Linked DNA regions of Homo sapiens. The protein of the gene in region 3 purifies or fractionates together with the protein of the main gene of each other region. This does not show direct contact. Each region holds a gene or a part of one and is shown on either strand. Other genes may lie near its edges.

Region 1 (3,500 bases), on a different chromosome or scaffold from region 3:
ACCTCCTGGTACATGTAGACCTCGTACTGCTCGGGGGTCAGCGGGGGGACCGAGGGCTTGGTGGGCTTGGACATGGGCACGATCGGGGAGGATGGCAGGGGGCTGTTCTGTGGTGTCTCGCTGCGGCTGGCCCCGGTCAGACTCAGCTCTGAGCTCTGGGAGTATGGGGACTCAGCGCTGGGCCACTCCTTCCAGTACTCTGACGACGAGGGTCCCTGGAGCTGACTGCGCTCGGCCCGAGGCTGGCTGCCACCTCCGCTGCCACCGCTGCCCTTCTCTTTCCCGCCGCCCGTTTCTTCGGCCTTGGCCTCCTCGGAGGAGGCGGCATTTCTTCTCTCCGGCTGCACCGCGCTCCACCAGTGGTCCTTCCAGGCACCGCTGCGGCCCACCTCATTTTTCACCTGTCTCAGGACCCCTTGTGCACAATCGGCTGCTCCCTGGGGGTCCAGCCCGGGGGCGTCCTGGGCCTCCTTTTTGAGGGCCGGGGGGTTCGGCAGAGCAGAGGCACCGGCCTCAGGAGCTGCGGAGGGCTTCTTCAGGGAGATGGCGAGAGGTGGGTAGCTGGACACGGTGGGCATGGGCGAGGTGGACAGAAGCTTGGGGGTGAGGATGGTGATGTCACTCTGGGACAGTGGTGCCTGCTTTAAGGCAGGGTCGAGGGCAGCCTGCTGGGCCTCCATCTCCCGGCGGGCTTGCTGCAGGATGGAGCGGATGGCGTCATCAGAGTTCCCGCTGCCGGATGCGGAGGAAGGCTGGGCCGGCTCTGCTGCATGGAGAAACAGGGGTGAGAGTGTGGCAGGGCGGCCCCCTTCAGCTGGGGACATGCTTCTCATCCTAACTTGACCTACTGCAAAGTGTGGGTTATTTGGGAGAACCACACTGTGTATTTCCCCAGCATGGCCCCTGTCAGTGAAACATTCAGGCATCTTGTCTCAACCAAGGACCAGGGCCTGACACTACAGCTTGATGACCTGGTGGCCTTTGGTATACACACAGATGTAGAGGGTAATAAAGGGGGTGTCAGTGAAAGTGCTCCCCGACCTGCCCTCCTGGGGCTCCTTTCCCCGAGAATTTTTTTTTTTTTTTTTTTTTTTTTTTTTAGCGACAGGATCTCGCTGTTGTCCAGGCTGGAGCGCAGTGGCACGATCACGGCTCACTGTACCCACCCTCCACCTCCCTGGCTCAAGCAATCCTCCCAGCTCAGCCTCCCAAGTAGCTGGGACCACAGGTGCATGCCACCATGCCTGGCTAGTGTTTTAAGAGACAAGGTCTCTCACTGTGTTGCATAGGCTGGTCTTAAACTCCTGAACTCAAGTCATCCTCCCCCATCAGCTTCCCAAAATGCCAGGATTGCAGGTGTGAGCCACCGCGCCTGACCTCTGATAATTTTTATACTTGGTATTCATTTTCCTGTGCTATATTCTGAAATGCAAGTGGTTCTGTCAAAGTTAAGGAGCGTAATTTCTGTGAATAATTACAACTAGGGGCCAGGCGCGGTGGCTCACACCTGTAATCCCAGCACCGTGGGAGGCCGAGGTGGGAGGATCACTGGAGGTCAGGAGTTCGAGACCAGCCTGGCCGACATGGTAAAACCCCGTCTCTACTAAAAACACAAATATCATGGGCATGGTGGCACATGTCTATAGTCCCAGCTACTCGGGAGACTGAGGCAGGAGAATCGCTTAAACCCGGGAGGCAGAGGTTGCAGTGAGCTGAGATCGTGCCACTGCACTCCAGCACAGGCAACAGAGAGAGACTGCATCTCAAAAAAAAAGGTAACTATTAGGCAAATACAGATCACACAGACCTGCTTCTCTCTACGTGCCTAAATGCTTGAGAACAGGCATTCATTATTGTTTAAAAAAAAAATAGTTAATTACTGCTGACCAGAGCACTCATGACAATTCTCTTAATTAAGTTTGAAGACAGTGGATGAAGAAATGGAAGCTGTACCAGTTTTCTGCACTTGGAGCTCCCTCTTGGCTTGCTCTAGGATGGACTTGATGGCTTCATCAGAGCCAGTCTCCGAGGCTCGGATCCGGGTGGTGATGTTACCTGTGGGGAGAAGTTGCGCCAATGACATCAAACCCAAACCCCGGACAAAAATCAGCGCTGCGCGAAGACGTCATTCTGATATATAGCCCCGGGTGGGGGCTGGTGACACAAGGAGGCAGATGTGGCCTCCCAGTGGCCTGTGTTTGCTGTGAGTGCAACTTCACAGCGACACCGGGCAGGAGGGATTTCCTGCTCATTTGACCTTACGGTCAATGTTACTCTGCCAAAGCCGGACACCACCCGTGGGTTAGTACCCGGGAGAACCGATCATTTAATCCATATATATAAAAGGCGAGTGATTAAAAGGCAATGTTTCTCATGAGTCACTTAGAAGCAACTGCTGTGGCTTGGGACTGACTCTCCTCGGGGTTAGATGTTTATTGGATGCTGGGGTCCCACACAGGATAAACGGAAAAGGAGGGCAGAGGGTTTGAGGCTGATTGTCTATCAATCATTCAGAGGCACAGGGTGAAGAAAGGCTTAACTTAAAAAATTGTTTGCACCTATTATCACATAATATCTTTTTAAAATTTACATACGAGGAAAGGAGCCTGCAGAAATTCCTAAGTGGGGAGGATGGATTCTTTCGGCCACATGGTGATGTTTTGTGCAGGCACACGTGCCGACGAAATGAGGCTACTATGGCCCAGGGGCTGGCCCCAGCTCTTTCGGGAAGCCACCCGGATAGTTTAATTTCTTACTACCTTCCTAAATAGGAACCACTGCATTCAAAACAAGTATACCACCATTTAAAAACAAGTATGCCACCGGGACGATGTGGGATGCGTCCGTTCCATAGGACCTTGAGTGTGTTTCCGAGTTAAAAATACGAGGAAGCAGCAGTATTTAATTTGACGGGTCACCTGACTTTTCTCAGAGCAACCGCTGTTATTTTTTCAACTGCGTCTGAGAAAAACGGGGGACCGGGTAATTAGGATCTGAAGTGGGCTGGGATTCAGACTCGGGGGGCTTAGCTTAGCAATGCCTCTTCTCACCCCCGCCTGTGCTTGGGAGAGGGCAGGCAGCTCGGGAGGAAGGGGCTGGGTGTGCTTGAACCCGTGCCTTGTTTTATACTTACTAGCTGTTTTTCCATCAGGTTCCAGGCCAGAATCACACTGCACAGTTTTAACCCAAATACACAGCTAAGGACATGCTGCTTCCCTAGGTGACTGACTGCAAAGAAAACGCCTGCCTGCAACATACCTTCAGACCCATTTCTTCGTTTCGGTACTTCCTGAAATAGTCTGTTCAGGCTCTGGCCTGGATTCTCTGTTGAAAAACAAGTGTGGTAAGAACAAAACAATCAGGGGAATGGTGGTGTTGACGATATGGGCTGTGTGACATGAAATCTGAGCCGCCTGTCACTAAAGAAAGGGCTCAGGGCTGCCTGTGCAACTCGGGAGTTTCTAGAATCTTCTGAGAGGCCCTTCCCTGGCTGACCGGCC
Region 2 (3,500 bases), about 140 Mb from region 3:
GGTTCTTCAACACTCTGCAGATCCTGGATCAGTTCTGGAACCTTCCTCGGGAGGTCTTAAAGTATTGGGCAGAAGAAAATCTCCAGAATCCCAGGCTCTTTCAGACAATAAACTCCCTGGGAAAGTTTAATGGAGAATATCCTAGAAATGACCCAAATGTAGACTATAACCACTGATCTTATTACTAATTAGGAGAACTAACTAGGAAATGTCGAGTCTAGGGTGGTGATCTTCTGAATCCAAAGCTTAAGATAAAAACAACACCAGCCTTGTGTTGCGGGAAGTCAGGGACCCCGAATGGAGGGACTGGCTGAAGCCGCAGCAGAAGAACATAAATTGTTTCATGGACATTTATTAGTTCCCAAAATTAATACTTTTATAATTTCTTACACCTGTCTTTACTGCAATCTCTGAACATAAATTGTGAAGATTTCATGGACATTTATTAGTTCCCCAAATTAATACTTTTTAAATTTCTTATGACTGTCTTACTTTAATCTCTTAATCCCGTCATCTTTGTAAACTGAGGATGTATGTCACCTCAGTACCCTGTGATGATTGCGTTAACTGTACAAATTGTTTGAAAAACATGTGTGTTTGAACAATATGAAATTAGTGCACCCTGAAAAAGAACAGAATAACAGCAATTTTCAGGGAACACGGAAAGATAACCATAAGGTCTGACTGCTTGCGGGGTTGGGCAGAATAGAGTCATACTCTTCTTCTTGCAGAAAGCGAGTAGGAGAAATACTGCTGAATTCTTTTTCCAGCAAGGAATAACCCTGGGGAAGGAATGCATTCTGGGAGAGAGGTCTATGAATGGCCGCTCTGGGAGTGTCTGTCTTATGCGGTTGAGATAGGACTAAAATACACCCTGGTCTCCTACAGTGCCCTCAGACTTACTAGGATTGGGAAATTCCAGCCTGGTAAATTCTAGTCAGACTGGTTGTCTGCTCTTGAACCCTATTTCCTGTTAAAATGTTTATAAAGACAATGTGTGCACAGTGGGACACAGACCCTCATCAGTAATTCTAATTTTTGCCTCTGCTTTGTGATTTTACTGCCCTTTGCAGCATGTGATCTCTGTGACCCACTCCCTATTCGTACACTCCCTCCCCTTTTGAAATCCCTAATAAAAACTTGCTGGTTTTGTGGCTCGGAGTCACCATCACGGTCCTACCAATATGTGATGGCACTCCTGGAGGCCCAGCTGTAAAATTTCTCTCTTTGTACTCTTTCTCTTTATTTCTCAGACCGGCCGACACTTAAGGAAAACAGAAAGAACCTATGTTGAAATATTGGGGACTGGTTCCCCTGATAGCCTTGGGATTTTGGTATTAACTTATAATATAAGGTTTGCAATTCAGGGCCAGATAGACAAATGAAAGGGAACATTTGTGAGACATTATGAATTAAATTCTCTCCTACAGAATAACTATTTGCTATTGGTACATATCCTGATATGACTAAGACATAATCCTTGCTCCTAACTTCTGGGCTATATTTGATTTGCCTTTTTTCCCCCCTTTTAAATCAATTAAGTCTACTTATATTCTGCAATCTAATAGTTATATAGTACTTATTTGGTAAAAGCTTCCTATCTTGGAAATGAACATAATGTTTCTTTAATGGAGACATTTTTCTTGTCAATCTAAATCATATAGTGTAAGTATGACAAAATGATTTCTTCTCACCTCATAGTCTTTAAACAATTGGCGCATGAAGAAAAGCCACCCAAATCCAAAAAATAGTATCTGGAGGAGAAAGAAAATAGAATGTCAATACATATTTTCTTTTGAGAAATGTTTTATAGAAACTCTTTTATGATAAAAGGTCTGCTAACTAGACGGTTAACTTATTTCAGGGATTAAAGATAAGATCCACTCTTATAAGACCTATTATTAAAGCTCATGACATTGGAAATAAATTTTTAAATGCCCTTGGAGTTTTGAAGTTATCCATGTTACAGAGTATGCTTTAAGACAAAAATGGAAGTACATATTTTGCCATAATCTTATGATAATCATTATATGAGCCAGAGAAGTTTGCAAATAGAAAAGGAGTCAGTGGCCAGGCACGGTGCCTCACACTTGTAATCCCAGCACTTTGGGAGGACAAGGTGGGCAGATCACCTGAAGCCAGGAGTTCAAGACCAGTCTGGCCAACATGGCAAAGCTCCGTCTCTACTGAAAATACAAAAATTAGCTGGGTGTGGGCACCTGTATTCCCAGCTACTCCAAAGGCTGAGGCATGAGAATCGCTTGAATCTGGGAGGCAGAGGTTGCAGAGAGCCAATATCGTGCCACTGCATTCCAGCCTGGGTGATAGAGTGAGACTAGGTCTCGAAAAAAAAGAAAAGGTGTCAGAGTGAGACTTGCTTCTTATGGATGATCCCTGATTGCAAGTATTTAAAAATAATACCAGCCTGGCCAACATGGTGAAAACCCGTCTCTACAAAAAACACACACACATAAAAATTAGCTGGGGGTGGTGGGGTGTGCCTGTAGTCCCAGCCACCTGGGAGGCTGAGGTGGGAAGATCACCTGAGCCTAGGAAGTTGAGGCTGCAGTGAGCCATGATTGCACCACTGCGCTCCAGCCTGGGCAACAGAGTGAGACCCTGTCTCAAAAAATAAATAAAAATAAATTAATTTAAAAAATAAAAACTTCAGGGGAGAGGAGTTGAGACCAAAATTAGAGGAGTAGTAGAAAGCCTAATATTTTTTATATCTGTTTCCTTCAGAGAGTTTTCTTAGCTTCTCCACCATCCTGCCTAATCTACATAAAAGTGGTTTTCATCTCAATGTAAAGCCGAGAGATTGCAGGATCCCTCTTTCGTCAGTTTTGTTTCAAACTGGCAGAGACCGTAGCCACATGACAGCTGATAAAGCTGGTCTGTAGTAAACAGAACTTTCTATACATACACACTGACACAACTACTCTTTTCTTCTTAAACTGGCTAGGACCTTTATGAATAAAATGATTTTATGTCTTTCTAGGGACTACTTTACTGAGCAAGTGTAAACTCAGTAGTTTAGCACAGACTACTTTAGCTTCTTATCATGCCCCTGCTGCCTAGCAAACTCATGTGTTCAGCCCCCTGGAACTTCTTTGGTTCTTTAGATCCATATTCTTTCACATCGAGACCTGTGTAGATGTCCTCTGAAAGGAACTTCTCTCTAGCCCTCTCCCAGTTATGCTATTTACTCCCCCTGGAAGGCCCTCTCTGCCCTCCCAAATGCAGATAAATTGCTTTTTATATAATCCTGTTTTACATTGTACTTCCCTCATCAAAGTGCTTACCATACAGTTTTGTAATGTGTGATTTAAATATTTTTTGACATTAGATTATAAGCTCTATGAGGACAAAAACCATGTTTGTCTTGTAATCTTTGTATCCTTGGCATCCAGCACAAAGCCTGGTACGTAGCAGGCTCTCCATAAGTGCTTGCTGAATGGCTAAGTGGTCTACATAAAAGATGGTTTATTCTTCAGCATTCA
Region 3 (3,500 bases):
GTGTTAGCCAGGGTGGTCTCGATCTCCTGACTTCATGATCTGCCCGCCTCAACCTCCCAAAGTGCCGGGATTACGGGCGTGAGCCACTGCGTCCGGCCAAAAGTAAATTTTTTAACAGTGATTTTGTAACAATCTTTTTGTTCAGCCTAGTTTCTCATTTCAACCCATCATATAGTAGATTTTTTGATTCTCAGGTAATAGTAGGGAATCAGTGGGTTTAACTGTGTCTTATAGGTGTTAGCAGAAAAACCTCTCTGTACAATGACAAGTGGCCACTGAGAACACTTTCTCATTTCTCATGAACTGCCCAATATTCTTAGCTGTGGATGGGGCAATGTTTTCCAGGTCTTCAAGTCATTTTACAACGAAACCTACTTTGAGCGACACGCAACATTCATGGACGGGAAGCTCATGCTGCTTCTATGGTCTTGCACCGTCTCCATGTTTCCTCTGGGCGGCCTGTTGGGGTCATTGCTCGTGGGCCTGCTGGTTGATAGCTGCGGCAGGTAAACAGAAGGTGCACTGCTCCCACTTAAAATTCATGCTAGTAAGCCACACTGTCTCTGGGCATTTGTGCACCTGGTGGGGAGACGTGTGACCCTGAAAATCAGGAGATCTGAAGTCTAGTCTCCGCTTGGCCACAGTCATCATGACCTTAAACCAGTCCCTAAATGTCTCTGGGATTTCTTTCCTAGGTAGTTGCATGGGAAAAGCATTCCCTTCCGTCACCTGCCACAGAGGTGGTGCAGCCTTTGAGATCAAGGTTCTTGACGGTGCTTAGCTTAGTGCCTTGTAAGCACTTCCAGTGGGTGTTCAGTAAATGCTCGTTTATCAGGTTTCATTCCGGGGTCAGGTGACCATGGCTCCAAGTTCTAAGCGCTGCAGCCTCTCCCCGCGTGTCTTTGCCAGAGTTTGTTACTGAGGCTGGGGTCAGGCTGAGTCACGCTGCCGGCCACTGTCTCATAGATACGAGATTATTTGGAAATGAAGACTGGGCAGGTCTTTGAACTTTGCTTGGCTTACACAGATTCACTAATCATTCTTCCTAAGCCCAGGTGCTCCAAAGACGTGACTCCACAGATAAGGAAAGATGCACAGGCCAAGGTTCCCAGGAGGGCAAAGCGTGAGCCTGGGCTCAGGATGAGGCCTGGTGGCATTCCCTTAGGTCAGCCCACTCATTCGGACTCACAGTTACACTTGGGCATGGTGTGCCAGGTTAGACAGCTTGCAGGAGTGACTGGAAGGCCCTCTAGTGAAAAGTCACTCAAAAAACCAGAGCAATTCCATTTTCAGGCATAGAAAAAAATAGCGCTGATTGAAAATTAATTATCTATTAATTAATGCAAGATTCATAGGACCTCTTCTTGCATATACTTGATCGACAATTAATTTGCCATACATTATGCGCTGGAAAGAAGAAACAATTCACTCTAATGTAACTATACCATAATTCAAGCTTTTTTTTTTGGTCATCCAGACTGTGATGTTCTCAGCCAGACCAAGAGTGTTTGGACTGTTCTGGAAGCCCAGTCTTGGCCTCCACTTCCTTGTCTGAACCCATTTTCCAGATGAAGAGCCTGAGTCCAGGAATGTGGTGGTGCCAGCCTTGCCCAGTGGGGTCCTGACAGCCCCAGCCTCCCCTTATAGTCATCAGGAAGGGCTGGGAGTCCAGAGAAGGGTGGGAACGTGTCGGGGCTGCTTAGTCTTTTTGGGCCTCCTGGCTGGCTGACCCTCCCCGTGATGGGGGATGTGCTCTGGTGGCTGCTCCTGAAGGCTGTGGCAGCCCCAGGGAGAGAAAAGTGGCCTGAGAACACCAGCCTGCTTGTCTGTGGACTCCCTGGCCAGTCCTCAGTGTTGCCGACCTGGGATATCTTCATAGAGTCCTCACCACCCACTCCCTGCTCTTGGCACCAGAACCTCGCCTTCCTGGCTTCCTCACTGAGTGCACTCACTCAGGGTCCCAGCGGTCCTCAAAGATGTGTGCAAAGTGTGAGACAATCACAAAGGTAGTCCTGGGGCTGCTGACAGCTTCATCACCCCCAGACCTGTAGGGGTGTGAGGAGGGAGCACCTCCACCTGGAGGTGGAGAGAGAAGAAATAAAAAATGAATACCAGGCTGGGCACGGGGGCTCGCGCCAGTAATCCCAGCACTTTGGGAGGCTGAGGTGAGCCAATCACTTCAGGCTAAGAGTTCGAGACCAGCCAGGCCAACATGGTGAAACTCCATCTCTACTAAAAATACAAAAATTAGCTGGGCATGGTGGCGCATGCCTGTAATCCCAGCTACTTGGGAAGCTGAGGCAAGAGAATTGCTTGAACCCGGGAGGCGGAGTGTATTAGTCCATTTTCACGCTGCTGATAAAGACATACCCGAGACTAGGCAATTTACAAAAGAAAGAGGTTTAATGGACTCACAGTTCCACGTGGCTGGGAAAGCCTCACAATCATGGCGGAAGGCAAAGGAGGGGCAAGTTACATCTTCCATGAATGGCAGCAGGCAAAGAGAGAGCTTGTGCAGAAATACTCTTCCTTATAAAACCATCAGACCTGGTGAGACTTATTCACTATCACGAGAACAGCACTGGGAAGACCTGCCACCAGGTCCCTCCCACACATGTGGGAATTTAAGATGAGATTTGGGTGAGGACACAGCCAAACCATATCACGGAGGTTTCAGTGAGCCAAGATCCCACCATTGCACTCTAGCCTGGGCGACAGAGCAAGACTCCATCTCAAAAAAAAAAAAAAGAGAGAATATCAGGATGCACCAGCCAGCAACCCCACAGCTCGGGAGCTCTCTGCCCTCTTTCTGGTCCACTGCCCATTCTTCTCCTGTGCAAAACCCAAGCCAAAGGCGGGGGGGTGGGGGGGGGCACAGGAGCCATTGCTGCAAGTTGGCAGGGGACCTAGAGCACAGAGTCAAGCAGATGAGTGGATCATGAAGGCAGCAGGACGCACCTGGCATAGCGCTGTTTTTCAGGCACTCCCTCTCCTTCTCAGGCTTGTGGTTTTTCAGCCTTGGAAGGGATCTTAGAAATCATGTAGTCCCATTCTGCACCCCACTGATTGTAAGAATTCCCTGTTCAACGTTCCTGACAGTCATCGTGTCTAGTCTAGAAACCACCAGCGACAGCTTGAATACCACCAGTGATGGGAAGCTCTCTACCTCCTGGGACAGCCCATTCTTTGTTCCTGCCCTCCCCTTTGCAGGCAGCTCCGATCGTTAGAATGCTCCCCTCCCCAGCTTCTACCCCCACTGACCCCAAGTCTTCCTTCCTGGGACGTCTGCCCATTCGCCCCTTCTTCCCATCTGTCTTAATCAGTTCAGGCTGCTACAACCACAGACTTAAACAACAGACATTTATCTTCTCACAGTTCTGCAGGATAGAAATTCAAGATCAAGGTACCAGCAGATCTGTTTCCTGGTGAGGGCCTTCTTTCTGGCTTGCAGACAGCTTTCTTCTGGCTGTGTCTTTTTTCTTTTTCTTTTTCTTTTTTTT
Region 4 (3,500 bases), on a different chromosome or scaffold from region 3:
CTGTACCCAGCCTATTAGACAATTAAATTCTGGTGTTTTTTCTGAGTTTTATTATTAGAAACACTTTACTCACCTTCTGCTCTACAAATGTACAAAAAAAAACCAAACTACAGCCAAATAAACCAGTAATTTTTTCTTCTTCCTTTTTCTTTTTTTTGAGACAGAGTCTCGCTCTGTTGCCCAAGCTGGTATGCAGTGGTACAAACTCAGCTCAATACAACCTCCGCCTCCCGGATTCAGGCCATTCTCCTGCCTCAGCCACCCAAGTAGTTGAGATTATAGGCATACACCACCATGCCTGACTAATGTTTATATTTTTAGTAGAGACGGGGTTTTGCCATGTTGGCCAGGCTGCTCTCCTGGCCTCAGATGATCCACCCGCCTTGGCCTCCCAAAGTGTTCAGATCACAAGCATGAGCCATTTCGTCCAGCCCTTCTCTTTCAATAACAGATAATAATTTGAGCTGTGCCCATTATGCATCAGGCCCTGCTGGGGTTGTACCCACAGAAGACACAAAAGTCAGCTGCTATATGTCTGCAAGTAGCTAACATGTTACCCTTCAAAGAGGAGGCAGTACACTGAGCATGCAAAAAAAACAAAACAAAACTATTTCAGGGAGTGGGCTGGGCACGGTGGCTCACGCCTGTAATTCCAACACTTTGGGAGACCACAGAGGGTAGATCACCTGAGGCCAGGAGTTCAAGATCAGCCTAGCCAACATGATCAAACACTGTCTCTACTAAAAATACAAAAAAAAAAGAAAATTTAATGGGCGTGGTGGTGTAAGCCTGTAGTCCCAGCTACTCGGGAGACTGAGGTAGGAGAATTGCTTGAAGCTGGGAGGCAGAGGTTGCAGCGAGCCAAGATGGCACACCACACTCCAGCCTGGGCAACAGAGCGCGACTCCATGTCAAAACAAAAACAAAACAAAAAAAACTATTTCAGAAAGTATTATTAGATGAGTTCCTATACTAAAGTTATTGGGACTCAAAATTCAAAAGAAGAAGTCCATCTAATTGAGAAGGGAGGGTAAATCAATGGAAGTAGTGTTTGTTACAGCCTTGGGGGATGAGCAGGCTTTCATCAATTAGGAAGAAGGAAGGAAAGGTACGTGGCAAAGATCCAGAGGTAGCAAAGCACAAGGCATGTGTTGTGCTATGAGCCTCTTTGCTTATCATTTTATTTTGGGAACTCTCCCTCTCCACATGGAAGGGCTGTCAATCACATCTCTTCTGCCATGGGAGAGGACATGTGACCCAGGCTGGCCAATGAGAGAACTCTGCCTCCTGGGCCACAGTGATTGGTTCACGGGTGTGAATAGGACCAAGCCAGGCTAATCAGAGTGCTCTCTGAGACTGACTCTGGCTGTGCAGAGAAATGCTGCCTTGTCTTTTCTCTGGCACCTTTATCTATCAGGATGTTATCAGCCCAAAGCTACGGAGCCATGTAGGGAAGTACCACTGAGAATGATGTTAACTCAGAGGACAACAGGGCAGTGGGTGAAACTGAGTACTGACAACATTGCTTGATCTCCTGGATCAATCCACACCTGAAGCTAGTCCCCAGATTTCTGAGATACATGCAGCCCCAAAGTTCCCTCTATTTACTTAGGCTACTTTTTTTTTTTTTTGGAATTGGAGTTTCACTCTTGTTGCCCAGGCTGGAGTGCAATGGCCCAATCTCGGCTCACCGCAACCTCCGCCTTCCAGGTTCAAGCAATTCTCCTGTCTCAGCCTCCCAGGTAGCTGGCATTACAGGCATACACCACCACGCCCAGCTCATTTTGTATTTTTAGTAGAGACGGGGTTTCTCCACGTTGAGGCTGGTCTCGAACTCCTGATCTCAGGTGATCTGCCCGCCTCGGCCTCCCAAAGTGCTGGGATTACAGGCGTGAGCCTCTGCAACCGGCCACTTAGGCTACTTTAAGACAGATTTATATCCCTTGCAATTGAGAGAATTTTGACCACCATAATTAGGGACTAATGAATAAGTGAGTCTGGTTAGCGTTTGGGAGGATTCAAGGGGAGAAATATGATGTGTCGTCCATTGTAGGGTAGTTAATTACTGACACTGTCAAGGAAAAGAGAAAATGAAAACGCCATGCCACCAAGGAGAACATCAACCTGACAATTCAGGAAAGGAACAAAATACTGAGGAATTGGTTAACAGGCTGGAAAATAAAATATGAACCACAGCCGGAACTGCCAGGGAGCTCTACATGCCATTACCATCAACACCCACTCCCTCGGCCCACTGCCCACACGTAGAAGTCCCTCCCTGCATGCAAAGGGAAACGGCGTTAAACACACACCAGCCACAGGAGGTAGAGAGCAAGGATGACTTGCAGGGGGGCTGACCAGATCATGTTAATGTACGTGGCCAAGTCCATGAACCTCTGAGCGTCCACAGACATGAGGTTGACAATCTCCCCGACCGTGGAGGATTTTCTGGCTGAATTGGTGATCACCAGGGCCTGTGGGACAAAGGAGAGGGAAGGTGGGTGAGTGTGGCAGCTGAAGAGGCCTGACTCTCCCTCCAGACCCACGGAGAGGAAGGAGACTCTCAGGGGCAGAAATGCCGCAGATCTCTCCTCCTCCCCTCCCGACCTATCTGTCTGCCCAGGACGCCTGTGTCATCTCAAAGCCCACATTCTTATCCGCGGTGCTCAGTGCCTCCCAACCTTGAACTCATCAGTTGGCAAGGGACCCTAGGTGTCCTCGAAACCAGGGCTTCGCATGCTTTAATGTGCACACATGCGGCCGGGTTTTTCTGGGGGGAGTGGTGGGGGGTGGGGGGAGTTGTTTTGGATTCTGCAAGTCTGGGGTGTGGCCTGGGATTCTGCATTTCTACGCTTCCAGGCTGTGTCAGTGCTACTGGTCCCAGATCCCACTGAAGGACTGAGGGTGTGGGCCAGGGTCTCTAATCCTTGGCATTCTTGACATCTGGAGCCAGATAATTCTTTGGGGGGCTGTCCTGCGCACTGTAGGAGTTTTAGCAGCAATACCTGGCCTCGACCCACTACATGCCCTCGCCCCCAGTTGGGACAACCGAAAATGCCCCCAGATATTGCCAAACGTGCCCTGGTGGGGGAAAATGTCCCTAGCCCTCAAACATGATTGCACACTATCACCTCGTGAGTTTTAAAAACACTAAGACATTAGCAGGCGTGGTGATGCATGCCTCTGGGCCCAGCTACGTGGTGGGCTGAGGTGGCAGGATCGTTTGAGCCCAGGAGGTGGAGGCTGCAGTGAGCCAAGATCATGCCACTGCACTCTAGCCTGGGTGACAGAGCGAGACCCTGTCTCAAAACATAAAAATAAATAAAAAACAAAAACAATGACACCTGGGTGCCACCACAGCAATCGCAATTTCACTGGTCTGGTGCAACCTAGGTGTCAGGAAGTTTTTTTGTTTTTTCAGACAGGGTCTCATTCTGTCACACAGGCCGGAATGCAGGGATGCTATCAGGACTCACTGCAGCCTCCAACTCCGGGGCTGA
Region 5 (3,500 bases), on a different chromosome or scaffold from region 3:
AAGGGTTTGCAGCCATTAAAAAAAATTATTTAAATCATCTTTGAAAATGTAAATCTCATCCTTCACTAAGGAAAGACCCACAATATCCAACGATTGGAAATAATGTCATTCAATTTACAGAAAACCGAGTAACTTCCCACACATTTTCATTTGCTAGGATTTCCTAAATCATTCCATCCTTTTGGACCTCCTGCATTTTTTGGAAACTGCTAAGAATTTGTTGTGAAATGAGGCAAGGCATGCAGTAACAACCTGCACTTTCTCATTTGACCCTTAATGCTTTGATTCCATTGACGATCATGAAAATTAAATGGTGAGCAATGATCTTTGCAGGCTCGTACCCATTTCTGTAAGGCAACCCCATTTCTCTCACGCTGCTTTTATGCCCTTGGCTTTCCCCATCCATTCCCCAAGGCCTCCCTCTAGGCAAACACTCACAGCTTTTGCGAAGACCCCCATAAGTTCCGGGAACTGATGTGTCAGGAGGGCCAGCATGGCTGTGAAGGAACATAATCCAGCAGTAAAGAGAATAAAGAAGGGAAGCTCCTTCTTTGGGTAAACTGAGACTTCATGGAAAGCTGTGGAGAAGACCAAAAGGGAAATATCAGGGCTGGAGTAAACTGCACTCTCAGGGGAGGTCTTTATGGTGGCACTGACTCCAGAGCTTGGGAAAGAGTTGGAAGCCTATGGGAAATGAAAAAATAGCACACCTGACAAACCATAGCCAACATCTGACCCAGCCTTTGGAGGCCCATCTGCTGGTCGCAAGTCTCCATCCAGCCTTCAGCACTCTAAATTGAGGCAGGAGGGGGCTGATTTGAGGGTGTCACGCCTTCATGGGAGGGAAGAGGAGCACCGCCTATGCCTAATGTATAGTATTTTTTTCTCAAAAGCAAACACAGCTGAAACAATTTGTAATTTACTCAAATTACAAAACACGTGTTCATTGTACAAAACCTGGAAAATCCAAAACCGAGTATACAGGGAAAAAAGGTATCCCGTCTATATTTTTTCCTTCCTGTATTTAAAAAATCATTATAATGAGATGATACTAGTTTCTCCTGTATTTTTTCCTGGCACCCTCTAAGTATATCAGTGGAGGGTGCCACCCTCATAGAGAGATATCCAGCAAGGACCTCACATGTAGGTCTATTCAAACTGCAAGGAGGGAAGGTCAAGACTGCTAGGGTTATCTGGCACAATTGTAAGAGACTCTTGATGACAAATACACTTCCAACAATCATCAAAAAAACAAGAAAAGCTGGTGCTCTTTAGAGTGCCCTCTATAATTTTTATATTATATTTCAAACATTGGGTTTGGGAAAACCAAAAAGCTGTGGTACAGAGGTCAAGAGAATCGCCTCCTTCTCTGTGCTCATGATGAGGCTGCCTGAGAGACTGCCTGGGTCGATGGGGCGGGCCTGCAGGAGGAGAAAGAGCCACCTGCTGGGGGTGCTGGGGGAGAGGCTGTGAAACTGCACGTGAGAAACAGCCCACTCTAACCAAGAGGACCAGAGGGCTCCATGGTCCTCAGGGAATACAAGATCTAGAGGCCTTTCCTCTACCATTCAGCTCCTATTCCTCAGAGTCTTCAACAGTAATCCACAAGGCTAATACTGAGGGTGGAGGGAATCCAGGAGGAACTCCATGCAGACGAATATGCCTACTACATCCAGGTAGGTCAGCCTGCTGGGATTCAAACACACGGAACAAGTGTGCTCAGGGCCTCGTGTGGCTATAATTATACTTTTAATGTGCAAATTATGGGTAGCACTTAAAACAACCTACCTTCTTCATATCCTCACCCTTAACATCCAACCAAAAAAGATTTTGGAGGGAGACCAGACTTGGAGCACTGCATTCAATTAATGTGAGCCATAATTTCCTATTTCAGGCTTATAAAGATTATCCCTATAAGGTTTCTCTTAAGAACTGTAATCTTGTTCTAATAACTAATCTATCCCCATGGAAACTTAATTGGACTCGATTAAAACATTTAAAAATACTGTACTTTTCAGAAAACTGCCTTTCTTACCAGAAAACCGAAACTTAACAAGGATCTCCCTGAAGGGGGAGTTGAAAGGTAAACTATGGGCCCACGGTGAGGATTTCTGAAATCAAATCTAATGTGTGAGGTACCAGACTCTTTTCACAATCAAACTCGAACGGTGAGAAACACATCACGGGGATCTCCCAGTTCCCTGAGTAACAAATCTCGCACTGGGTCTGGCTGGCAGGAAGGCAAGTGAGCAACTCCTGCTACCTCAATCTGATGACAGCCATTGAGTTCTGCACCCAGATCCCACCATGCTGGAGATTCATGACTGGCTTGATGATGCTGGTGTTTGGAAATTTACTATGCACCCAGGGCTCTAAGGTTACACTGTTCCTCTGGGGAAAGTACTTATATGTTACAGCTATAAGATATTGATATAACTGGGGCTGGTGAAAGGGCAGAGATGGCAGGAGAGAGGACAGAGAAGGGAGAAGAGCTAAAATTTGGAGCTTATTATCTGAGGGAGAAAAATATATCCTAAGTCTGGGCCACATGAAGAGCCTGACATGATCCTTGTACATAGTATGATTTGATAATAACCATTTAGCCTGAATTGTCAAAACAATGTTGTATTACAGCAAAGCAAAATAATATTTTCCACATGTGGTATGGGTCATTAGACTGCTAGCAAGTGTAAGGTAGTCGAGGGCAGGGTTTTCTTTTGTGTGCTTTCATACAGTGCTGAGGCTACACGTGTGCTCTGCACATGGTACTCCGAGTCACTACATGCAACCCACGAGGTGCTCACGGGAAATCCCTCTTGCCAGAGCACAGCCTCACCACACAGCACACTGCCCTGCCCCACAACTCCACATCTGGCCATGGTGCCAGCTTCCTGGTGCTGGCCTCCCACCCATGACTCATGCGCAGCTCCCTCTCAGTCAGCAGCTCCTCTTCAAACTCCGGTCGGTGCAGACCACATCTGTCCAGCTGAAGAGCCCAGGCAGAACCCTCACAATGGACCAGCCCAGCAGACACCAGCCCAAACCAGGGGTCTCTGTGCTCAGGCCAATCAGTACATAGGGTTTCTTCAGCTACATTTCAATCCTTTGGCATCTTTCCCTTTGATAAATTTGGAGAGACTTGGAGGAAAAGGAAGCCAAACCCACTCACATAATTCACTTTAATACATATGCTATCAAACAAGGACAGGGGTTTGGAGAAAAGTAATAAAAGACAAGGAGCATTCTAAACTTTGATATTCCCACCTCTTCCAATCCCCACCTTTCACCACACACCCTCACTGGCTGAAGAGAGGTGAGACTTACATGGAAGCAGCTCTCGGTCTGCTGTTTCTGTACAGATTGGGTAAGGATAAAATAGGTGCCCCTTTTCCAAGGGATAAGGGATCATCCGAAAAGCTGAAAACGAGAAAAAATATGTCAGAGATGTCCAATGTTTGTGTCATAACTTCCCAACTGCAAAAAGGGGCGTTTGAGCATTT
Region 6 (3,500 bases), on a different chromosome or scaffold from region 3:
TCTGTGGGGTGGGGCCGGGCGTGGAAAGTCCCCCGCGTCTGTGGGGTGGGGCCTGGATACTCCCCCGCATCTGCGGGGTGGGGCGTGGATCGTCTCCCGCATGTGCGGGGTCGGGTGTGGATGGTCTGCCGCGTCTGCGGGGTCGGGTGTGGATGGTCTCCCGCGTCTGCGGGGTCGGGTGTGGATGGTCTCCCGCCTCTGCGGGGTCGGGTGTGGATGGTCTCCCGCGTCTGTGGGGTCGGGTGTGGATCGTCTCCCGCGTCTGTGGGGTCGGGTGTGGATCCTCTCCTGCGTCTGTGGGGTCGGGTGTGGATATTCTACTTGTTTTTTCTGTCTTTGATGTAGCGCTCCTTCAACATCAACGTGTGAGGCGGATTGTGTGCAGTGGGTAGGAGAGTGTGGTCTGTGGAATGAGCTGAGCAGAAAGATAATCAGGCTGAGAAACTCAGGGGCGTGGTGATTGTGGCCTAGGGCTCAGAAGGTCCCCGCAGAAGAGTGTCTGCCAAGGAGAAGGAAGGGGTGGGCTTGCCAGGGCCGAGGCTGGTGGGGCTGGGCTGGGCAGTGGGCAGCTCCATGGCCTCCACCAGATGAGTCGGGAGCCTCGTCCCTTGACAGCAGGAGGAGCAGAGGTTGGTAGGTCTGTGATTTGGAGACAGTGTCCCGCTGTGGCATGGAGAGGGAATGGGGCACGGTCAGTGTGGTGGTCCTGCCAGCGCCCAGCAGAGTCCAGCATAGCCCAGCACACTGTCCAGGAGGGAGCTCTGCCTCGGTGGCGGTGGGAGGGAGCGGCCAGCTGGGCAGGACTCTGGGGCCTTGGCAGGGTCCTGGATCTGGGGAGGGGGCGGGGGAGGAGTAGAGTGGCCCCGGGATCCTGGCTAGAGAAGCCATGGCAAGTGCGGCTCCCAGCATGTGAGTTGCAGGGGTCAGGCTGGGAGCTTGCTTTCGGCTGGGGCCGGGCTGGGTCTGCCAGGCAGTCCCTGGTGCTTGGAGAGGGTCACGGTGGGCACAGGACTCACCAGGGGGTGCGTGAGGCCGGAGGGTGAGGGTGAGGTCCCCGGTGAAGTTCTTGGTGGCGTGTGGGGGTTGTGGAGGTTGGGAGGGTACTGGGACCAGGTGTGGGGCCGGGCCAGGGAGCAGCGTGGGAGGGAGGACCACCCTTGAGAAGGGATTGTCACCAAGAGACGCAGCCCTAGGGGGAGTGCTGCCCACCGAAGCCTGACCGGGGCAGAGGGGAAACGGAGTCCAGGCTCAGCCAAGCTGATGGGCCTTGAGCTGTGGCCTCGGGTGCAGGGACAGCTGGCAGTAAGGCCACCTGGGCCCGCGGGAGCCAAGGGCACCGGCGAGTGTCCTGGCCATGCAGGCCGTGAACACGGAGCCTGCAGGGGACGTGCGGGTGAAGCAGGAGCAGAGGAGAAGCCTCCCGGCAGGGGTGGTGGCATTTGGGGGTGGTGGTATTTGGGGGTAGAGACTCCCGCTCAGGTATGGCTGTGTCTGGCCCAAGAGGCGTGGAGGGGCCAGCCCCCACCTGTCTCAGGAGGACAGGCTGCTGAAACCTGAGGGCCAGGCGGAGGGGAGGGGCCGTGGCCGGGGTTCTGGTGTGGGCCAGCAGCAGAGGACCTGGGGTACTGGGCACTGCCAGTTGGGGGCTTGTGGTACCATCCCCTGCGGGAGGCTGCACCTCAGCCAGTAGGAGTCCACTGAAGCTGTGGACAGCACCCAGGCAGAGGCCTCCTCCCAGCTGGGGAGCCAGGCCAGGCCCCGCTGCCCTCACACAGTCCTGTTTAGACGGATGGCCCTGCAGGTGCAGAGCTAAGCCCGGCGCCCACGCCCCTCCTGGGGTGTCTCCAAGCAGTGTCTGCCTGGGGCAAGCCTGGGAACGTGAGTTCCCAGGACACAGGAGCTTGACCAGCCACCCTCCCAGCGGGAGTGTGAGAGCGGGAATCTGCGGGCGGGGGTCTGCGGGCGGGAGTGTGCGGGCGAGAGTGTGCGGGCGGGGGTCTGCGGGCGGGAGTGTGCGGGTGGCGGTCTGCGGGCAGGAGTCTGAGTGGCAGATGGGTGAGGGACACATCAGGGTCTCTGGGATGGCTCCAAAGGCTTCCCTATGTGCCTGTTGGGCAGGGCCCTAGGGCCAGACTGGAGGGACCAAGCCCAAGCACCCCAGGCTGTGGGACAGCAGGTGTGACAGGGCTGAGGTAGAGCCCCCAGCGGTCAGGCTGGGAGGACAGTGGGTGAGCCTGGGAGTAGGGGCCACCCAGATGGTATTTGACAAGGAAGGACCAGGACCTTTCTATATCCACAGCCCCTGTCCCCTGAGCAGGGCAGCCTGGCCATCTTGGTCTCCATCTGTCTTGGGAGGGGACAGCCCCAGGGGTGAGTGGAATGTCAGGGAACAGAAGGCCAGGCCGGGCCAGCACCCCAGAGGTCTCAGTGGCATTAGCCTCTGCCCTCCGGGGGCGGGGGCCAGGCTGAGGGTGGCCCCAGTGTGGCATCTGGCTCCTGGGCTGGCCAGATTCCCAGGGAACAGTCACCCAGCACCTCGTGTGTATTTCGACTTTATTATTATTATTATTATTATTATTAGAGCCGAGTGTCGCTGTGTCGCCCAGGCTGGAGTGCTGTGTCGCCCAGGCTGGAGTGCAGTGGCGCGATCTCGGCTCAGTGCCAGCTCCGCCTCCCGGGTTCACGCCATTCTCCTGCCTCAGCCTCCTGAGTAGCTGGGACTACAGGCGCCCGCCACCATGCCCGGCTAATTTTTTGTGTTTTTAACAGAGACGGGGTTTCACCGTGTTAGCCAGGACGGTCTCGATCTCCTGACCTCGTGATCTGCCCGCCTCGGCCTCCCACAGTGCTGGGATGACAGTCATGAGCCACCGCGCCTGGCCTCGACTTTATTATTAATACGGTAAAACTACAGAGAGTTTGAAACATCAGTCTGGGGCGTCCTCCTCTAACCAGTGCACTTGCTGCTGCAGCGCAGGCCCTTCAGGGGACGGGGATGGGGGCCAGTCCCCTCCCTGCCTCCACGGCCCAAGCCCCAGCCTTCCCCACAGTCCTGGAGGATGGCCCGTGGCTGACAGTCTCGGTGGGCGCTGTGTTAAGGTGGCGTCCCCAGCCAGGTCCCGACTCCCCAGCTTAAAGAACAGGGTGGCTGCTGTGGCTTGACTCACGAGTTGCCACTGGCCTTGATGTGTACACGCCCTTGCTCTAGCACTGCCTGGGGCTGGCCTGGCTGGAGGGTAGGGACGCTGCACGCCTTCCCTCTTCCCCCAGGCGCTGGTGACACTGCCCTGCAACCGTCAGCACCATCATCTCCACAACTTGCTCTGTCCCCTTCAAACCCTGACTCCCAGCTGCCCCGCTCCCCCAGCCCCGGCACCCACCATTCTGCTGTCTCTGAACTTGGCTATTCATAGACGTCACATAGGTGACTCATAACTGTGTGCGACCTTTTGTGTCTGACCAACTCCTCTTGGCACAGTGTCCCCAAGGTCCCCCAGGCT
Region 7 (3,500 bases), about 78 Mb from region 3:
TCAATTGAAGTTAAGGAGACTGAAGACACTGAAAACTCTGGCTTGGGGAGAAGAAATAAGGCCACTACAGTGACTTTAGTCATAGAAAATTTTCATACTCTGACTGAAATATGCTACCAAGAAGAATGTTTCAGATGTAGTAGTCAGATATAGTACATGAAACGCAGCTAGCCTGAAGCAGAGTGTAAACCGTGATTTTTGTTGGATTTGATGACTCAAGTCAGGCTAGCAAGTAATAAGAAGAGACCTTAAGGAAAAACACAAACAATATAGGTAATGGTGTTGGGGTTTTTTGTTAGTTGAATCAGACCTAAACTGATGTTACAGGAAAAAGCTAAGAAGCACCCTTCTCACTAACAGTAGTGTCTTGACCTATATTCTTAATAGATCAACCTCAATATTATGATTATCTGTGATAACAAAAGCATTTGTTTTCACTATCTAAAAGAGCAGGAATGTCATCCTGAACATTCTGGCCAAATTCCAACTCTGTAATTACTATCTGTTGAATGAATGCTACTATTAACTTGAGTAATTACTATCTACCAAACTCCCACTCATGCATTTACTTAAACATTTCTTGTATGGCTGTGGGTACTTTTATGAGACTAAGCCAGGGAGAAAGTTTTCTACACTCACAGGAAAACAAAGTAGTGGTTGGATAAAAATATAAGAAAAGTTTGCAGTAATTGAACATATCTTCACTGAAGTTCAGAGCTGTGCTGTTCAACCTGTTTTAGGAGTGTAGGGCAGGGGGCTGGTTCCCAATCCACCTGAGAGATAAGAATAGATCATACTGCTGTCAATCAGAGGTGCTCACTCTGCCAGTAATTATTATCATCTACCGCTATCAAAATCTATGTTGGTCCATTTGTTCATTCATTCATCATTTATTTAACAAAAAATGTATAGTTTCTACTATGTCTCAGGCACTATTCTAAACATAAGGGATATAGTAGTGAACAAGACAGACAAGGTTCCTATCCTTAAAGATCTTATAATAGAGGAAAAGACAGGCAGTAAACAAACCAATATATAAGATAAGTTAGTAAGCTGATTAGTACCAGAGAAGACACAACAAGAGTGATACAGTACACAGTAACTTAGAAGAGGTAATTAATATGTAGGATGGCCAGGCATGGTTTTTCTAAGAGGATGTCATTAAACCTTAAATGGATAACATGAAGCCAACTCTGGAAGAAGCCAGGAGAAGTGCATTCTAAGAGGAAAGGATAAGTGCGGAGGCCTTAAAATGGGAAAGGCTTGGCGTATTCAATGAAACACAAGGCCAGTGTGGCTAGTGGGTAAGAAGTTGGTGCACACAAGGGCTAGATTAAAAAGGGCCTCTTGGTCTATGTAAGAAATGTGGATTTTGTAGGGGAGGTAGGAATAACAATTTAAAGATAAGTACCCTACCATCCTGGGAAGACTAAAGTATTCATCTTCCCATATCCCTACTGAGAATCATCATCTGTATCTTTGTTACTCAAACTGCAGTTTAAAGACCAGCGGCATTAATTTTGGCATCCAGTGGGAGTTGTTTAAAAATTGAAAACTGGGCTCCATCTTGGTCCTTCTGAATCTGAATCTGCATTTTAACCAGTGATTAGCATACACATTATAGGTGGAGAAAATTCATCTAAAGTGCTGCTCTGAAAAGTATCTGCAACTCCTGGTGAACTGTGGGCTCTAACGCAGATAACCTAAAGTTGGCTTGAGAGTGAATTTCAAAAAGAAAAAAATTCATGTTGTTCTTCAGAGAATACAAATTCTAGGTATTTCCAATGTTTTAACAAAAGGGGTTATATATAATCATAGACCTAAACATATGAGAGCAAAAAAGAATTCTTTTTTTGAAAAATCATAAAAGATGTGGCTAATCACATATATGGTATGGCTAAACACATGACAGCAAAGCAAACTCCATTTTTCAACTAGAAGAGTTGATTGATTACCTATCTCTTGCCAATTCCTCTCTATTAACTAAGTAAAGCCCATCGCAAAAATGTATCTTTAATGACTGAGTCCACACCTTATTCTAATTGCTTAGTTTCTCATACCTTATATTCTCAAATGTTTATCTTTTAATATCCTTCTTTTAACTTTTCAACTTTTTTATTTAAAAAAATTTCTAAACTACAGAAAAGATGAAAAAATAGGACAGTGAACATCTCTATACTCTTCACCTAGATTCACTAATTATTAACATTTTGTCACTTTTATCTTTTTTCTCTATGTATGCACATACATACTCAATTTTTTCTGACCTATTTGAAAGCAAATAGTTGTCATTCATATTTAACCCCTAATTACCTCAGCATGTACTATGTCTATGAACAAAGATATCATTTTTGATCAAGGATCTGATCACAGACCATACATTACATTTGGTTTCCATGTCTCTCTAGTCTAGAGAAGCCTCCCTCCAACTTTTTTGGTTGTTATGATACTGACACTTTAGAAGTCAGTTGTTCTGTAGAATATTCTACATTAATTTGTTTTCTCGGGATTAGGTCCAAATCAAACATTTTGGTAGGGAACACTTTTGGTTAAATATTTCAGTGAGATCACCACAAATTGATGTTTTATTTTAACTGTTTTCATAGCCCCTGTGTTTATGTTTTATGTTCCCAAGTAAATTTTAAATAAGCTCCTTCAAGGATGTGGCCATGCTTTCTATTTCTTTGTTATTTCCCCAAAGAATGTAGTACAACCTTTGTGTATATTACATACACAACAAATAAATGAAAAACTCAAAAGCAGAGTTGACAACTATTTCTAAGGATAGCAGAATATATATAACTATTATACATTGAGTGGTTTTATACCAGACTAAAAATATTTGGGCTTTGCCTCTAAAATTTTTGAGACAAATAATTAAGCAGGTAAACAGTTTAGAACAATACCTAATATAGTATGTACAAAAAATGTCTAGGAAAGCTGGGGCTAAAGGCAGATATCAAGCAGACTGAACTAAGATTGGAAGGTGAGGGAATAAAGAGGATGGTCAGGTAACATATCTCAAAATATTTTTATGAGTAAACTGAGCTTTACACGGAAGCTGGAGACAACAGATTTAAGAAAGATCTCATCTTTTAAGTTGTACTTGATTAGAAACTATTTCTTAGAGAAGAAAAAAGAGCAAAATAGTTCATTTAATTCTTATTTAAGCAGCTGAGAGGCCAGGCGCCTGTAATCCCAGCACTTTGGGAGGCCTAGGTGGGCGGATCACCTGAGGTCAGGAGTTTGTGACCAGCCTGACTAACACGGTGAGACTCTGTCTCTACTAAAAATACAAAAATTAGCTGGGCGTGGTGGCGCATGCCTATAATCCTCGCTACTTGGGAGGCTGAGGCAGAATTGCTTGAACGTGGGAGGCAGAGGTTGCAATGAGCCGAGATCGCACCATTGCACTCCAGCCTGGGAAGCAAGAGCAAAACCCTGTCTCCAAAAAAAAAAAAAAAAAAAAAAAAGGTAGCTGAGAACAGTACACAGAGACA

What was found.
Region 1: the proteins of SLC2A7 (region 3) and CUX1 purify together in Homo sapiens (affinity purification with mass spectrometry; one large-scale study listed by BioGRID and IntAct). This does not show direct contact.
Region 2: the proteins of SLC2A7 (region 3) and GPR89A purify together in Homo sapiens (affinity purification with mass spectrometry, with the first as the bait; one large-scale study listed by BioGRID). This does not show direct contact.
Region 4: the proteins of SLC2A7 (region 3) and ABCC1 purify together in Homo sapiens (affinity purification with mass spectrometry; one large-scale study listed by BioGRID and IntAct). This does not show direct contact.
Region 5: the proteins of SLC2A7 (region 3) and ST7 purify together in Homo sapiens (affinity purification with mass spectrometry; one large-scale study listed by BioGRID and IntAct). This does not show direct contact.
Region 6: the proteins of SLC2A7 (region 3) and GNPTG purify together in Homo sapiens (affinity purification with mass spectrometry; one large-scale study listed by BioGRID and IntAct). This does not show direct contact.
Region 7: the proteins of SLC2A7 (region 3) and HS2ST1 purify together in Homo sapiens (affinity purification with mass spectrometry; one large-scale study listed by BioGRID and IntAct). This does not show direct contact.

The regions. Positions count from the first base shown.
Region 1 is NC_000007.14:102,198,626-102,202,125, reverse strand, and holds part of CUX1 (Homeobox protein cut-like 1), read right to left. Parts: intron 3,325-3,500; coding exon 3,259-3,324; intron 2,056-3,258; coding exon 1,954-2,055; intron 767-1,953; coding exon 1-766. UniProt on the Homo sapiens protein: May be involved in intra-Golgi retrograde transport.
Region 2 is NC_000001.11:145,614,488-145,617,987, reverse strand, and holds part of GPR89A (Golgi pH regulator A), read right to left. Parts: intron 1,755-3,500; coding exon 1,695-1,754; intron 1-1,694. UniProt on the Homo sapiens protein: Voltage-gated channel that enables the transfer of anions such as iodide, chloride, bromide and fluoride which may function in counter-ion conductance and participates in Golgi acidification.
Region 3 is NC_000001.11:9,019,924-9,023,423, reverse strand, and holds part of SLC2A7 (solute carrier family 2, facilitated glucose transporter member 7), read left to right. Parts: intron 1-345; coding exon 346-506; intron 507-3,500. UniProt on the Homo sapiens protein: Probable sugar transporter. Even if its physiological substrate is subject to discussion, it is able to transport glucose and fructose. Does not transport galactose, 2-deoxy-d-glucose and xylose.
Region 4 is NC_000016.10:16,047,116-16,050,615, reverse strand, and holds part of ABCC1 (multidrug resistance-associated protein 1), read right to left. Parts: intron 2,475-3,500; coding exon 2,313-2,474; intron 1-2,312.
Region 5 is NC_000007.14:117,219,001-117,222,500, reverse strand, and holds part of ST7 (suppressor of tumorigenicity 7 protein), read right to left. Parts: intron 3,418-3,500; coding exon 3,325-3,417; intron 579-3,324; coding exon 439-578; intron 1-438. UniProt on the Homo sapiens protein: May act as a tumor suppressor.
Region 6 is NC_000016.10:1,354,931-1,358,430, forward strand, and holds part of GNPTG (N-acetylglucosamine-1-phosphotransferase subunit gamma precursor), read left to right. Parts: intron 1-3,500. UniProt on the Homo sapiens protein: Non-catalytic subunit of the N-acetylglucosamine-1-phosphotransferase complex, an enzyme that catalyzes the formation of mannose 6-phosphate (M6P) markers on high mannose type oligosaccharides in the Golgi apparatus.
Region 7 is NC_000001.11:87,075,135-87,078,634, reverse strand, and holds part of HS2ST1 (heparan sulfate 2-O-sulfotransferase 1), read right to left. Parts: intron 1-3,500. UniProt on the Homo sapiens protein: Catalyzes the transfer of a sulfo group from 3'-phospho-5'-adenylyl sulfate (PAPS) to the 2-OH position of iduronic acid (IdoA) or glucuronic acid (GlcA) within the heparan sulfate (HS) chain and participates in HS biosynthesis.